2 separate regions of the Homo sapiens genome follow, and region 2 is linked to region 1. The links come from fine-mapping of genetic effects on plasma protein levels. A gene starts in region 1. The other region holds a variant in brackets. All regions are shown on one strand. Distances are from middle to middle. Region 1 holds the start of SCRN1 (secernin 1). Region 2 overlaps SCRN1 (secernin 1).

Evidence for each region. PIP is the chance, under the fine-mapping model, that this variant and not a neighbour inherited with it causes the effect. Protein levels are from antibody-based Olink assays in UK Biobank. Linkage for the fine-mapping came from a reference panel and not from the study's own genotypes, which makes the PIPs less certain.
Region 2: its variant is fine-mapped to the plasma level of the SCRN1 protein (UK Biobank, PIP 0.99).

The regions. Positions count from the first base shown.
Region 1 is chr7:29,985,740-29,994,262 of GRCh38, reverse strand. It overlaps SCRN1 (secernin 1), which reads left to right and starts at 4,462. Exons shown (of 8, transcript NM_014766.5): 1 at 4,462-4,621. It overlaps FKBP14-AS1 (FKBP14 antisense RNA 1), which reads right to left and starts at 5,607. Exons shown (of 3, transcript NR_187577.1): 1 at 5,470-5,607. RefSeq lists silencers at 4,336-4,675, 4,696-4,745, 4,756-5,025, 5,116-5,235.
Region 2 is chr7:29,950,523-29,958,522 of GRCh38, reverse strand. It overlaps SCRN1 (secernin 1), which reads left to right. Exons shown (of 8, transcript NM_014766.5): 3 at 3,163-3,344. Among named protein-coding and RNA genes, the nearest start is that of FKBP14-AS1, 34 kb to the left of the region's middle. The variant C/T (reference allele first, on the strand shown) is at 4,141.

The sequences.
Region 1 (8,523 bases):
AAATGGTGCTGGAACAATTGAATAGTCACATAAATAAACTTGGAATTTTACCTCCACTTATTCAAAAATTTACTTGAAATGGACCATGGTCTTAACATAAGTGCTAAAAAACTATACATCTCTGGATGTAAACATAGAAGAAAATCTTTGCAACCTTGGAGTAGGCAAAATTTCTTAGGACATAAAAAGTATTAACTATAAAAGAAAAAATATTGATAAATTGAGCATAACAAAATTAAAATCTTCTCTTCAAAAGACACCACTAATGAAAAGCGAGACATATACTGAAAGAATATATTTGTAATACATAAATATGATAAAGAACTTGTATCCAGATATAAGGAATTCTTAACATGTAATAATAATACTAATTAAAAATATAAAACTTTTTAACAGGCAAAAGACTTAAACACTTTCCAAAAGAACATATATGAATGGCTAACAAGTATAGGAAAAGTTGCTCACCATTATTAATCAGCAAAGAAATATAGGCTGGACATGGTAGTTCATGCCTATAATCCCAGCACTTTGGGAGGCTGAGGCGGGTGGCTCATGAGGTCAAGAGATCAAGATCATCCTGGCCAACATGGTAAAACCCCATCTCTACTAAAGATAGAAAAATTAGCTAGGCATGGTGGTGTGCAGCTGTAGTCTCAGCTACTCAGGAGAATGAGGCAGGAGAATTGCTTGAACCTGGGAGGTAGAAGTTGCAGTGAGCCGAGATCGTACCACTGCACTCCAGCCTGGAGACAGAGTGAGATGCTGTCTCAAAAAAAAAAAAAAAAAGGCAATATAAATTAAAACCACGAGGAGATTTCAGTACACATTTGTGAGAATCGATAAAATTTAGAAGATTGATAATAGCAAGTGTTGATAAGGATGTGGAGCAACTGGAACTCTCATATATTTCTGATATAATGTAAAATGGTAAAAACCACTTTGGAATACAGTTTGGCAACTTTTTATAAATTTAAATATACACCTGCCGTATGACTCACCCACTTCACTCTTAAGTATTAGGTTGGTTGGTGCAAAAGTGATTGCAGTTTTTGCCATTTTTAAAACAGTAATGGCAAAAACTGCAATTACTTTTGCACCAATCTAATGTTTACCCAAGAGAAATGAAAACCTACACTTACATAAAACTTGTAGATAAATATTATTAGCAGCTTTATTCATAATTGTTCCAAACTGAAAACACTATTAGTATCTGTGGTCATCACTGAGTGTACCCTCCAGACATGTTTAGCAGACAGCCTCTAGCTATAATCTCCTTCTGCCTCAGCTGCAGAGAGTAACCTCTGTAGGGATCATGTCCTTCTCAGGGCGGAAGAGAAAAAAGGAAATCTGTTATACTTGTATTTTTTAGCTCTTAAGTCTCTGAATATGACTAGATGGAATATAAATGACCGTGTAACAGTTGCAAGTCATTTAAGACATTTTTTTTCCTTGCAAGCTAGCTCATGGAAATCTTATAATTTACTCAAAGTTAAACCTCACATAATTGATAGAGGCCAATGATTAAAGCCCTTACTGATATTTCTTGGTGTTCTCCACATTTGTTGGACAGTTCTGTTCTCTTATCTCTATTTATGCAGCTCAAATAATAGTAGGGACTGTCTTTTGGATACAAAGCAGAGACAAAATAAGTGTATTGCTGCTGGTTTTTGTTTTTTAAGACGGAGTCTCACTCTCTCACCCAGGCTGGAGTGCAATGGCACGATCTTGGCTCACTGCAACCTCTGACTCCCTGGTTCAAGCTATTCTCCTGCCTCAGCCTCCCAAGTAGCTGGGATTATAGGCACGCACCACCACACACAGCTAATTTTTGTATTTTCAGTAGAGACGGGGTTTCACCATGTTGGCCAGGATGGTCTTGATCTTCTGACCTCGTGATCCACCCGCCTTGGTCTCCCAAAGTGCTGGGATTACAGGCATGAGCCACCATGCCCGGTCATTGCTGCTGTTTAATAAGCGTTCATAGTGCCATATAATAAGCTTCTCCATGCAGACCCTGGGGAAAGCAGGTGTCTTTCAATCTCCATGTGTTCCTGGGCTCCTGGCCTCAAAGCTCCTGTGGCTGTGTAGGGACAAACCAACAGGCTTCAAAGATCTCAGGCCAGGCAGGCAGGTTGGCAGTATCCCCTATCCGTGTACTGAGCATATGGCTGCCTCCAGGGGAGCAGCGTAGGGTGCAAGTGCCATCCTTTACACAACAAATGACATATACTGGCTATAGGAAGGCACAGGATTGCATTTGCCTTTCTAGTAGTGGTGTAGTCTTAAACTAGACATTTAAAACAGTGACTCTGGCTGGGCACGGTGGCTCACGTCTGTAATCTTAACACTTCAGATGGCTAAGGCAGGAGGATCATTTGAGTCCAGGAGCTTGAAACCAGCCTGGGCAACATAGTGAGACTCCATTTCTACAAAAATATTTTAAAAAGTAGCTAGGCATGGTGGCACATGCTTGTAGTCCTATCTACTCAGGAGGCTGAGGTAGGAGGATCACTTGAGCCTAGGAGGTAGAGGCTGCAGTGAGCCACTTCCCTCGAGGCTGGGTGACAGAGCGAGATCCCATCTCAAAACAAACAAAAAATAAAACAGCGACTCTGAGACTTTTAAAAAAAGTTTAATATTTATTTTAAGTTCTGGGGTATATATGCAGGATGTGCAGATTTGTTATATAAGTAAACGTGTACCACGGTGGTTTGCTGCACCTATCAACCCATCACTTAGGTATTAAGCCCAGCATGCATTACCTATTTTTCCTAATGCTCTCCCTACCCACACCTCACGGACTTTCAGACTTTAACATGCAAGAGAAACAACTAAAGAGCTTGAAAAATGCGGGTTCCCTGGCTCCAGCCCCAGAGACTCTGAATTCCATAGATCTGGGCTGGAACCCAGGAATAAGCCCGCTAGAAATTTCTAATATTGATTATTTAGACTCATTGGCTACAGTTTTCTTGGCTAGACTAAAAGAACAGTAAAGTACCTTTGTGCTCCAAGAGTCTACGAACCAATGCTCTATTCTGCAGTACCTACACCAACTTCCTCAGCCCTTCCCCACTATCCGTTTACTCATGTGTCAGACTGTAAGCACAGGCTCAACATTCAAAGGGCATGGAAAAAAGTCTCCTTCTCTCCCCAGCACCCAGTCTCCCAGTTCTGCTCCCTGGTGGCATCTATTACAGGTTCTTACGTACTCTTCCAAAGATACTCTGTGCATTTACAAAAATAAGTACAGACATACATATATATTTTCTTCCCACAAATAACACACACAACGTTCTGCACCTAGCTTTTTATTTTTCTTTAGTTAGTATAGGTTGGAAATAGTTTTGTATTAGCAAATAAAGATCATTCTCCTTTTTAAAGGAAGCTGGATAGTAGAGGCAGGCGGATTGCCTAAGCTCAGGAGTTTGAGACCGGCCTGGGCAACATGGTGAAACCCCATCTCTACTAAAAATCAAAAAAAATTAGCGAGGCTGGTGGCGTGGGTCTGTAGTCTCAGCCACTTGGGAGGCTGAGGCACGAGAATCGCTTGAACCCGGGAGGCGGGAGGCGGGAGGCGGGAGGCAGGAGGCGGAGTTTGCAGTGAGCCGAGATCCTGCCACTGCATTCCAGACTGGGCGACAAAGCAAGACTCAAAATGTTTTGATTTTTGTTAATCTGGCTGGTGGAAGATGCTACCCCACATATTTGATTTGCAGTTAAGTGAGCCTGAATATCTTTTCGTGTGCCAGGATAGAATTGCATTTATTTTCCTCTGAATTACGTCTTCATATCTTTTGAGATAGTCTTTTCTTATTTACTTATAAAAGATGGAGTTGACGCTGGCATCAACACACACACACACACACACACACAGACACACAACACACAAGTCCCTGTACATAACTTTATTAACCCAGATATGGAATCTTGGCTTAGTTACGTGCTGTGTGACCTTGGGCAAGTTACTTAACCTCTCTAGGCCACAATGTCCAAGTACCTGGGACAGGGTCTGGCTTACCAACATGGTACAGGACGGCACTTTTAAAACCAGGGACTCGACTTGGACGTGCGAGTCAACAAGGTACAGGACACATTTCTCTCCGGGGAAATCTTGTGTGGGCGCCGAGGCCCGGACGTAGCAACCAAACGTCGGGAAGAGGCGCCAAAAGGATGCTGGGCCTGGCTCCTTGAAGCCCGGGTTTTCCCTTTTGAGAGCCACAACCAAGAAATAAAAATCTAGCAAAGAGGGGGCCACTTTCTGCGGCGAGATACGCCCTCTCGGCCGCTCCTCCAGCTCCCAGGCCCCCTCCCTACTCGACGGTGAGCAGCGCCGCGGCCCGTGCAGCCAGACGCGCGGGGTGCGGCGGGGCCCCGGGGGCCGGGGTGGGGGAGGCGGAGGGTGGGCCCGCGGTCACGTGAGTCGGGCCAGCTGCTGCGGGGGGCGGCGGGCCCCAGCGCCGGGAGTCTGGGTAGGGGGAAGCGCCCGGCGGCCGCCTCCGCCACTGCAGCTGCAGCCCCCGAGGTCGCCGCAGTAATCCGGACCCGGCAGCACCCGCACCCTCGGCGGCCGCAGCCTCAGCACCGCAGAGCGGAGAGCGGAGCCCGGAGCCCGCCGCCCCAGGTGAGCCGCGTCTGGGAGCGCAGGGCGTTTGCAGCGCTGCTTTCCCGGCGGTTTCACCCCACCCGCCATCGCCACCTCCTGCGTTTCATCTCCTCCCGCTGTCCCTCCGAACCCGCGGGTAGCGTTACCCCAGGCCGATTCCCGGTGCTGGCCCGGGCGGGCTGGGAGCCTGGGGGCGGTCAGAGGAGAGGTGGCCTCGGCCTGAAGCCGGGGTGACTCGGCTCGGGGACTGCGGGGGTGCAGTGGAGGGATGCCGGCCCCGGGCTCCCGCACCGCAGCCGGGTTCCCCGCGCTGCTCTTCCTGGGTTTCCTTTTCCTGGCAGCCAACCTGCTGCCCACTGGGATGTGCCTGTGGGCCCCTGGCCTCGCCACCCTGGGGTCTGGGGCGAGCCGGGCACCTTCCCCGAGGTGCCGTACCTGCTGCGCGGGCGGGCGCCGCGAACATGGCTGCCCGGAGACGCCCGCCGCCTTCGGCCCGGCTCTGCCAGCGCGTCCAACTCGCCCGCGGCCGCCGCACCGTGTCCCGGAGCAGCCCTCCCCGCTAGGCCGACGCGCGCGGGCCGCCCCTGGGTTCTCCGCGGGCCGCGCGTGGGACTTGACACAACTTCCCTCGAGCCGCACCCGGGCGTTCTCCGCGGGGCGCCGGGCGGGGCTGCCGAGAGGCCGGCTTGGTCGGCCTCTGCCTCCTCGGCTCGCTCTTGAGGCGTCGAGTATTTGGCGACCTCACTCGCGAGGGCCGAGAGAAATGTGGTCTGCAAAGCAGGAGGGGCGCTTGAACTTTAGAGAATTGGCGAGAACTCGGATTTGGGAATAAAAATGTCCATGAAAACATCGAAGGAAACTGTTACCTGCTTTGACTCAAAGCTGACCTTGTAGGGTTCTGTTAAATAACGTGGCTTTTCTGGATTTTCTGTCTGATTCTAGCATGCAAGTCCTTGACTTACGCTTGCGTCCGGCAGCCGGGTGGGGTGGGTGCGTGCGTGTGTGTGTGCGCGTGTGCGCGTGTTGTGTTCCCAGCCTGGTTAGAAGATGCATCAGTTGCGGAGGAAACCTATGCTAATTCAAAATGGCAGCATGAAAAATAGGCCAGGCGGAAGCAGCACAGACCACAACCATCAGCTGCCCCCTGACTTAAGCCTCAGGGAGGGAATTAGTGTGAGTCAAGGCTCATCCGGGTATGGAGTAGAGAGTGATTCTTGGAGCTGGCTAGATTTTAGGGTGCTGCAGGGTCCTGGGAGTTGTTAAGTGGGAAGTTTGGAGAGCTGTAATTATTTTTCCTAACTTATCAAAAGATGATACAAAACCTAGTTAAAACTCTACGGTTTTGTATGATTTTCTCCAGGCTCAACTAAAGTTGACTCTGTGGCTGCTGATGTCTTTTTGATGCACAACCTGGAGGTCGTTTGATACCTACAAGCTCTTAAAAGAGATGTGTGCACATTGTAAACATCATCCAAGAGCAGTGCACATAACAAATACCAGGTTCTTAGATCAAGTTTCATTGGAAGAACTGATTTAGCGACACGAGGAAGCACCCAGGCATGAGGAAATGGGAAATTCTTGAAAGGTGACTCATTTTAGAATTTTTTTTTTTTAAACAGCCTTTCTTTCCCTTTTCACTTCCGTGCTGCCAGCCATCTTGTCTTTTGGGAAGGAGATACATGAGGAGGCAAATGCTTCAGGGATAATGGAATAGAGGAGGATGAGCTAAGGTCGGGGGGCAGAGGTGGAGGCAGTCTTAAGGAGCCTGCTGTCAACCCCCTTTTTACAGCAGGAAGGCTGAGGCCAGCGGGGCGAATGGACGCCAAGATCATATATCTGGCTGTCAACTGGCAGTGAGAACCCAAATCCAGGTCTCATAACTCCCCCGGGTTCCACATGCTACCTTTTAGAGCCTGGGGGAGAACAGCAAGTCTGTCATTATTAGGAAGGCAAACACTTCGAGCAATGGGAAGCCAAACTGTAATATGAATTACAAAGTCTATAGGTGTTTAAAGTCAATGACAACACCTTAATTTCCTAATTCAAGACTTTTAACTTCTTAAGCTGTATCTACCTCATGTTCACATTTTCCAGTGGTGAAACTGTTTCTATAGTTAAGAACCAAAAACATTATTTTAGTAAAGTCTTTGAGGCAAGAAGTACATTTTTTGATTAAAAATTGAGTTGCTTGTGTTTGTGGAGAACCATTAGGCCAGTTTATTTTGAAAAGGAACCAAAGTAGGCCATGCATTTCATTTTTTTCGACTGTTTCTAATTTTAAGTAAAAGTAAATAACAAGCCTATTGTAAACATAACTTTGAAGCAGTGAAGACAGGCTTTTCCTATGATTTGCATTTGACTTTTCTGAGTCATGAGTCAGTGACCTTAGATCTACTAAAGCAGAGCTAGAAATTGTGCATGGGTTAGTGTGAAGAGGTGGTGAAGATGTGGAAAACGTTTCTTCTGGGCATCTGAACCTTCACAGCCAGTGATGTGCAGAGGGAGAAGGTGGCAGGAGGCAGGGAACAGGGAGAATGTCTTGAGGCAGTGGAACAGATAGGAGCTAAATATGAATATATATATCGAAGTGAAGACAGATGCTGATGTGACATGTGCCATTTAGAAAACTAACTTGCAGCCGGGCGCGGTGGCTCACGCCTGTAATCCCAGCACTTTGGGAGGCCGAGGCGGGCGGATCACGAGGTCAGGAGATCGAGACCATCCTGGCTAACACGGTGAAACCCCGTCTCTACTAAAAATACAAAAAATTAGCCGGGCATGGTGGCACGCGCCTGTAGTCCCAGCTACTTGGGAGGCTGAGGCAGGAGAATCGCTTGAACCCGGGAGGCGGAGGTTGCAGTGAGGCGAGATGGTGCCACTGCACTCCAGCCTGGGCGACAGAGCGAGACTCCGTCTCAAAAAAAAAAAAAAAAAAAAAAAAATTAAAAAAATTAGAAAACTAACTTGCATTAGAGGATGAATGTGAAGATATGCCAAAGATATTTAAAATAGCAAGTTGTAAAAATACAGAAATGCATGCAATTTGTGTCTGTTGAAGAATAAGAATACAGATAAACAAAAGTTATTTTTTTTTAAATCCGTTTTCATTAGAGTCTAGATCTGTGCTGTTTCATCTGGTAGCCACCAGCCTCATGTGGCTATTGAGCACTTGAAATGCAGCTAGTTTGTATTGAGATATGCTGAGTGTAAAATATACACACAATTTCAAAAATTTAATATGAAGAAAGAATTTAAAATATCATTAATAATTTTATATTGATTTTATATTGAAGTAACATGTTGGATATATTGGGTAAAATATATTACTAAAAATAATTCCATGAGTTTCTCTTTACTTTTAAAAATGTGGCTACTAGAAAATATAAAATTGCAAATATGGTTCGCATCTGTCTTGCTCTCTCTCGAGACAGGGCCTCCCTCCGTCACCCAGGCTAGAGTGCAGTGGCACGATCTCGGCTCACTGCAACCTCTGCCTCCAGGGTTCAAGCGATTCTCCTGCCTCAACCTCCTGAGTAGCTGGGATTACAGGCGTGCGCCACCACAGCCCGGCTAACTTTTGTATTTTTAGTAGAGACAGGGTTTCACCATATTGGTCGGGCTGGTCTCGAACTCCTGACCTCAGGTGATCTGCCCGCCTCGGCCTCCCAAAGTGCTGGGATTACAGGCATGAGCCACCTCGCCCAGCCCTTGGATTATATTTCTAGTGGTTTTTAACAGGAACTGGAGGGTGGCTGAGCTCATAATGCTGTTTGTAGAACTGGGTATGTAAGGAGAAGTTAAAACAGAAACTGAAAAGGGGACAGGATGGACGGAAAAGGGACTACAAGAAGTGAGTGACCAGGGAAACTGTAAAGGGAGAGAAGGAGTATGTGGTGGGCTGGGACTGCTGAGTATGAGAC
Region 2 (8,000 bases), 35 kb after region 1:
ATTTGTACCTAGAGAAACCTCTTTTGCTTCCTCAAATCCCACTTCTCTGGCTCATTAATAATGTGGCAGTTGTAAAGGTGGGTGGATTTTATATTTAAAAGTGGCTGTGGAGTTCATGTTCTAGATGGCTGACTTTACCAAGTTGAGCTAATTAAATTTTGTGTAAGTGTTCCTGATTTTGTGAGATCTGCTCCCAAAGTGGGATTTTAAGTAGCCAGTCTATCTACATGAGACAAGTGTGTTTACCCCTCCCCAACCCCACCTGGTTGTGATTAGCCAGATTTAAAACATAATGGAGCAGGTGTGAATGGCTGTCATAGAAGAGCCCTTATGAGGCCCGTGCTCTGTGGCCCGTGACAAAGATGCAGCAAGGGGCATGTGTTCCAGGCTCGGGGCCTGTGAAGGGATCTGGCTGCCTGGCTTTCGGTCTGGTGCTTAGGAGGGCTGATTGGGCCCATCTGGCTACTTGGGGATCCCCTTCCTTCCTCACCATTCCGAGTTTGGCCTGAAAAACATCAAGTTGGCTGCATATATTTTGAACTCCTGCAAAGACCATCTGGTCTTTTTGATTCAATTGTCAACATTTTTTTAATCAGGCAATCTGTATTAAGCCCTTGTAGTTCTGTGCCTTAATGACATCATGGCAGCTCCCCCACATGGCACAGCAGGGACCTCTCTGGACCATAGAGACCCTTCACATGCCCCTTCCTCTCTTAAGCCCTTAGCTCTGTCTGGAGTACCTTGATGGCTGGCCCATTTTTTAAGGTCAACCCAGATTTCTCCCACGTGATACAGCCTCTAGCGGACCATGCGGATGTGTTTCCTCATTTCTTTGGACTTTTACCTTCTGTGCTCCCTTAGAGCTTTGTAATTTCTCCAGCCATCCATTCAGCCACCGATCCAACAAAAGGCTTATTGATGCCTGATATATACCAGACTTGGGGCATGTCAGTGAACTAAATAACAAAGATATCCCCCTTCCCTCTTGGGGCTTACACTCTAGCTGGGGGAGATAGTATACATAAACAGTACATGTAATAAGTCCATCAGTTCTGTAGTATTTCAGAAGGGGATAAATGGAATGGAACGGCAAAGAGGAAAAGCAGAGCTGGGCTGGGTGGATCAGAAGGGCAAAGCAGGAGGCAGTGGCACGATGCTTCAGGAATGAAGCAGGCAGGCCTGGGAGACACTGAAGCTGGCCTGGGCTCGTAGGAATTTGTGTGCGCGCCTTTGCCTTCCTCCCCAGCCAAAAGGACAGGGCCTGGGCCTCCTCACTGATTTTCTGCTTGCAGCATTTAGCACAAAATGCTTTGCATGTAGTTGGTGTTCTGTAAATAATTGGGGAAATGGAAATGAGTGTGTAAAAATGAATTTGAAGACAAATAAACCATTTCCTAATTTTTACTTTTTTTCTGCCCTTTTAAAAACCTGTATGATAAATCTGTGCTTAAGAAGCTGAGATTCTTTTCCTATTTACTCATTGTTTTCAAGACAAAAGTTGCCACTGGCACTCAGTGCGGACAGGGGTTTTGGAAAGTGTTGGTCAATGCCTGGACTACTTTTTGACATAGAGTGCAATGTTAAGATGTAAACGTCAATTCCATTTAGAAGAGCACAGAGGAGCAGAGTTTGATTACTGCTCTGGCCAGCTTCGTGCTCTACAAGAATCATTTTTTTTTTAAATAAATAACTTTTGGGAACTGCATAGAGGGAAAATCTTGAGTATATTTTATTGTCAGTTTGCCATGAAAAATTCAAGAGTCTCTTGAAAACCTCTGGATATAATTAGTTTTCAGTTTGCAAATATTTATCAAGTAAAATGACATTATCCCAGTGCAGAGCAACACCTTAACATGAATTGTGCAGACCCAAAGTCACCTGACCAGTGAGTGTGTGTGTCACACGGGTTTCAGCTCTTACCTGAGGTTTAGCGATTATGGGAAATCAATACAGAATAGCTTTGTGGGCTGCATTCAGTCGATATAGCTGGGTCTTGAGTTAAAAAAAGAAAGATCTAAGGCTGCTGTTGCTTTCAGCTGCCCCGTTTAAAATGTAAATGATTCCTGCAGCTGATAAAATTCTCCCTTGAGAGCTCCAGAGCACTGTGTAACTTAGAGACTTGAATTCAATACAGCGTCCACCACACAAAGGGTGTGTCATAGGCTCGTAGAATGTCAGAGTCAGGAGGCCCCCATGGGGAAGCTAGTTGCAGGTTCCTCTGCCGTGGGTCACAACGTGGGGAGGGGAAAGGGAAGCACAGGAGGGCGAGACTCTGAGGGTTACCCACATCCTGGTCCCGGGCCTCTTCCTCCCTTTGCCTGGACATACTTTGACTGATTTTATTGTGCTTATGATTCTGTGTAAGAGTTCGTGTGAAGAAGGTGTTCTGAGGTTAAAAATACTTGGGAAGAAATAGTTTGACTCAAATTAGCTCCCCCATTTTCCAGGTAAAGCCACTGCAGCCTGGAGAAGGTAAGATGCACCACTAAGTTGTGTGTTCTGCAGTTCTGACAGCAGCTGGAGATGCACCTCCATGGGACTGTTTCCTTCTGTGTCCACCTCACTGTCTTAGTGTGAGGATCAAATGGGACAGGCAGGAAATCCCACAGTGTAATGCAGTAGTTAAATGCAAATGTTATTATCCTTTTCTGTTTTCTACCACTAGAGCAACCATGTAGGTTATCAAACTGTGTTTCAGGAAACCCAAAGGGTCCTTGCAGGGGGACTCAGGGTTCTGCTTTCTTTAGGCAAAGATCTTCCCTTTTACCTGCTTTCTATCTTAGGCTTCTAGGTGAAGTTTCTTTTGAAGGTAGGGCTCGTAAATAGCTGTGTTCAATATTGGTGAATGCTGGCAGCCGCCTGTGCCTGTTGAAATGGGCAGGCTTAGGATGTTCAGGATGATGATTGGCTGAATACCTGGTTCAAGATGATTGCCCTATTACGTGAGCACCAGGAATAGATTGGCATAAGCCACACAGTCTGAAACTCACCATGGAGACTTTTGAGCTGCATTGTGAAGACTTAAAAATCAGGGTATTCCCAAGGCCTTTTATTTTTTGGCTCTGTTTGTAACTAATATGATGGTTCAGTATAAGTACCCAGGCAGAAATGAGGTGGTACCTGACAGGTGATGGCGCTTTCTTTCCTGTGTTTGTTTTTCAGTGCACTTACATTTCAATCGACCAAGTTCCAAGGACCTATGCCATAATGATAAGCAGACCCGCCTGGCTCTGGGGAGCAGAAATGGGAGCCAATGAACATGGAGTGTGCATAGCCAATGAAGCCATCAACACCAGAGAGCCAGCTGCCGAGATAGAAGCCTTGCTGGGGATGGATCTGGTCAGGTACTGCATGGTGATTCTTTGAAACAACTTCCTAGAAAAGGTTGGAAATGGGGACAGGATTTATTTCTCCCTAAACCTTGCATTTTTTAACATAATCCTTCCAAAGATGATGTGTGCCTTTTGATAGAAACTTTAAGATGATGAGATAAATGAGTGGATTACAATGGAATATTACTTAACAATAAAAAAAAATCAAGTGGCTGGGCATGGTGGCTCATGCCTGTAATCCCAGCACTTTGGGAGGCCGAGGCAGGTGGATCACCTGAGGTCAGGAGTTCGAGACCAGCCTGGCCAACATGGTGAAACCCCGTCTCTACGAAAAATACAAAAATTAGCCGAACGTGGTGCTAGGCGCCTATAATCCCAGCTACTCAGGAGGCTGAGACAGGAGAATTGCTGGAACCTGGAAGACGGAGGTTGCAGTGAGCCGAGATCATGTCATTGCACTCCAGCTGAGGCGACAACAACGAGTCTCCATCAAAAACAAATGAACAAAGAATCAAGTATAGATACATACTAAAGCATAATGATCTTGAAAACATTATACTGAGAGAGAAGCCAGACACAAAAGGTCACATATTGTGATTCTATTTATATGAAATATACAGAATAGGCAAATCCATAGAGGCAGGAAGTTAGATTAGTGGTTGCCTGGGGTTTGGGTGTGGGTGAGAGAATGGGGAGTGATTCCTAATGGGCATGAGCTTTCTTTTGCGGGTGTTGAAAATGTTCTAAACCTTAGATTGTGGTGATGGCTGCACAACTTTGTGAGTACACTAAAAACCACTGAACTGTA[C/T]AGTTTAAATGGGTGGATTTTATAGTACTTGAAATATATAATATATATATAAAAATATGAAAAATCATAAACTAGAAAAGAAAAATAGAACAGAGATCACTTCCCTCCTTTCCTCTCTATGTCTCAGTTATTTTTTCTTCCTTTTTCCCCTCTCCCAGCCACTACACAGCAGAAGGAACCTGCTGTGCGAGCTGGATAGGGCAGGGATCTTTGTCTGTACACTGCTGTGTCATAAGCACTGGGAACTGTGTGCCTGGCCTGTAATGAGTGATCAATAACTGAATTTTGAATGAATGACTAAAGTAGAAGGTAGGCTGGAACAAAGCAACATTCTGAAATGCCTTTTTTTGTCCCTGAAATAGTGAAATGAAATAAAATCATGACATAGTTGAAAGAAGATTGGGCTGGGAGCTGGAGTTCTTGGCTTTCAGTGTGGATGTACCAAGTTACATCACCTCTCTGGGCCACAGTTTCCTCATTTTTTCAATATGAGGTCTAGATTGGATGACTTCCGAAGAACTCCCAAAGCTAACATCCTAGAAAAAGGAATGGGGTTGGATTTTGGTTTTGTAGGGGGAAATGGCACATTTAGACAGTGGTCTCGGGAACTCACTCCTCTGCCACCTGATGGAGAGGTCTGCGAGGGACACCCTTTTGGTAGCACAGTGACTTCCTGCCTTCCTTACCTTTCCTTACTGTTCCTCATTCTTATAAACTCAGGAGGAGCAGCTTCCCTGAGCTGGGGAAAAGGCAGAAAAAGCCAGTTTTTAAAAACCAGTTATATATAGCTAGTTTTCTCTTGATTAGCAAAATGAAATGTATAGAATAACAAGAAGTTTTTTTTTTTTTAGCTTATGTTTTGACAGCTCTCCAGTATTTTTTACTGTATTTGCAGTATGAGACTTATAGAACAGGCAAAATTACCATTTTAACAGTTGATTTCTAAGGGACAGTGGAAGAGGATTTTTTGCCTTTCTTCAGAGCACCTGATATATCTTTTTAAGATTATCAACCAATAAAGCAACAGGAGTTTACTGAATATCTACTTTGTTCTAGACTCTGTGGGTACATGAAGCAGCTCAAAGCTTCAAAGGGATTTTAGTCTGGTTGCAGGAAGAAGAAAATTGAGCAATGGAAATTTTAAGAATAATATAAGAAGATAGTAGGAGAGAGGTAACTCAAAGTGATCTGAGATTTGATGCCACGTGAATGGCACAGAATTCCAGGGTGTGGCCTTCAGCAAACACTGCGGGATGTTCACAGATTATCACAGACTGGTCATATTTGGGAATGCTTTGAGGGGCAGGTTCATTTGACCTGAAGCTGCAAGGCTGAGGGAGGTAGACACAGAAGATATGTTTGTCACAGACTTGGCATTGTGATAATTAGCAAGGTCAGGAGTAGATGACAGGGTGAGAGTTTAACCTTCACCATATAACGTTAACTCCATCTTGGGCTAGCCATGTCCAGCTATTGTAATAAAAAGGGTGTGAAGAGCACTGGTAGGTTCTTCAGGGTGGGGATGGAGTCACAGGCATCTGCACCTTAAGTGGATCTTTTGAGTTCATCTTTAAAGCAGCTATGATCAGTTCAGCCAAGCATAGCCAGATTTTGAAGGGTCATTTCATACCAACCAAATCCTAAAAGTAACTCATGCTCATTACCCAGCATTCTCTCTCTCTCTCTCTTTTTTTTTTTTAGACAAGTCTTGCTCTGTTTCCTAGGAGTGCAGTGGTATGATCTCGGCTGATTGCAACCTCCGCCTCCCAGGTTCAAGCGATTCTCCTGCCTCAGCCTCCTGAGTAGATGGGATTACAGGTGTATGCCACCACACCCAGCTAATTTTTGTATTTTTAGTAGGGACGGGGTTTCACCATGTTGACCAGGCTGGTCTCGAACTTCTGACCTCAAGTGATCCGCCTGCCTCAGCCTCTCAGAGTGCTGGGATTACAGGCGTGGACCACCACATCCCACCCCAGATTTCCTTTTTAATGATTTAATTCTAGTATTAATTTTTAAGAAGCTCCAGATGATATTGATACTACAAGTCAAAAAACCACAGTTTGAGTGGCAAGTTCTAGAGTAGTGGTTCTCAAAGTATGGCTGGTGAACAAGCATCACCTGGGAACTTGCTAGAAATGTAAATTGTCGGTCCCTATTTCACACCCAGGGGCCAGCAACCTGTTTTAACAAGTTCTCCAGCTGGTGCTGATGCACGGTTACGGTGAGAACCGCTGCTCCACAGGAAACTTTCTATCAGTTGGTTTCATTCTCTTAATTTGGGGCTCAGTGCCTCCCTAGGTATTGCTGTGTGAGGAACCACTACTTTCTCTGGCCTTGCTTGCACTCTGTGTCTAGTGCCAGTTCCTCCCTGGACAGCTTCTATGAGAGCAGGCTATGTCCATTTCACATGCTCTTTCAAGGGCCTGCTAGACTGTGGTTGATTATTCAATGAATACAGTAGTTGCCCCTATACTTATCCTGGTACTTTGCACTTTCCAGCAGCATGTGAAATCCAACCTCAGTTCAAAGAGACATAAGGGAATGACAGTAGCAATGTAATAGGCACTGATTTTAAGATAAAGGTATAATTTGTGTATGTTTCCTAGAGGCTTGTGGGAATGTAAGCATTAGGCAATATTGTTTTTATAATGCGTTTTCAGTGACATTTATCTCAAAGCTAAGCTTCATCTGTTATTTTTGATTCACTGTTCTCTGACCACTAGTCCCTTTCTCCTGAGGAAGAGGCATATAAAGACACGTACACATTTTTGCATGTTTCATGAAGTTGGTTCCAAGTAATGAGTAGCCAATAGAAGCTAACATAAAAGTGGGAATTTGGCCAGGTGCAGTGGCTCATGCCTGTAATCCCAGTGTCACACGATCCTTACGGTGTTGCTTTTCCAGCCGGAAACCTCTGTGGCTGGTGGCACCTTTGCCTGAGTTTTGGTCGGGCTGCTGGGCTTGTTCCACCACTTGGCCCTGCACACTGTACTCAGCTTATGCTACTGGCCTGGATCCCATGCCTTCCAAGCACAAGCCAGGCGCAGAGAGGAAAGGGGTGTGTGAGCAAGCATGGGGTCCAGCCACTGCACACAGCCAGGTGTGCCAGCTGTGGCGGGATGGGCAGCTCTAGGCGTTGGCACAGGCACTAGCTCTGTGCGAGGCTGCAGCTGGACCAGGCGTACTGCAAATGGCTTCCACTGCAGTCACCAAGAAACGTGGTGCCTGGAAGCTTGGAAATGCCAGGAACTGCAGAGCCCCAAAGAGAGTGTCACAGTCCTGGCTCAGGGAGCCCCTAGGTCTGGACTCCCCAAAGGGCTGCAGCTCTTCTCTCCTTTTCATCACCTGCAATTTTGCAAATGGTGGGGGCTGGGGGTGTGCTTCAGCACTGTTTGTGTTATAGCTCTTTCAGTCCCACCATTTGGCGGGTCCCAAGCTCTTGTCCCATGTTCAGGAAGAGTGAGATACATGGACAGCTGGAGAGTGAGCAAGGTGGTGAGGAGCTTCATTGAGTGACAGAACAGCTCTCAGGGGACCCAAAGTGGGTAGCTCCATTCTGCAGGCAGGTCATCCTGACGAGTATCCAGCTCTCAGCAGAGAGGAGACCTGTAGTGGGTAGCTCCCTTCTGCTGCAGGCAGGTCATCCCAACGAGTCAAGGAGGCCCAAACTTGGTAGCTCCTTCCTGCAGCTGGTAGTCCTAACGTCTGTGTGAGTCTGACTGAGTCTGGGGTTTTTATGGGCTCAGAAGGGAGGAAGTGTGTGCTGATCGGGTCATGGGCAAGCCTGGAAAAAGCACCATAAGTTCTCACTCTGGGCTGCGTACTCCACCCGGAACTAGCAGACCAGCCTCCGGGCT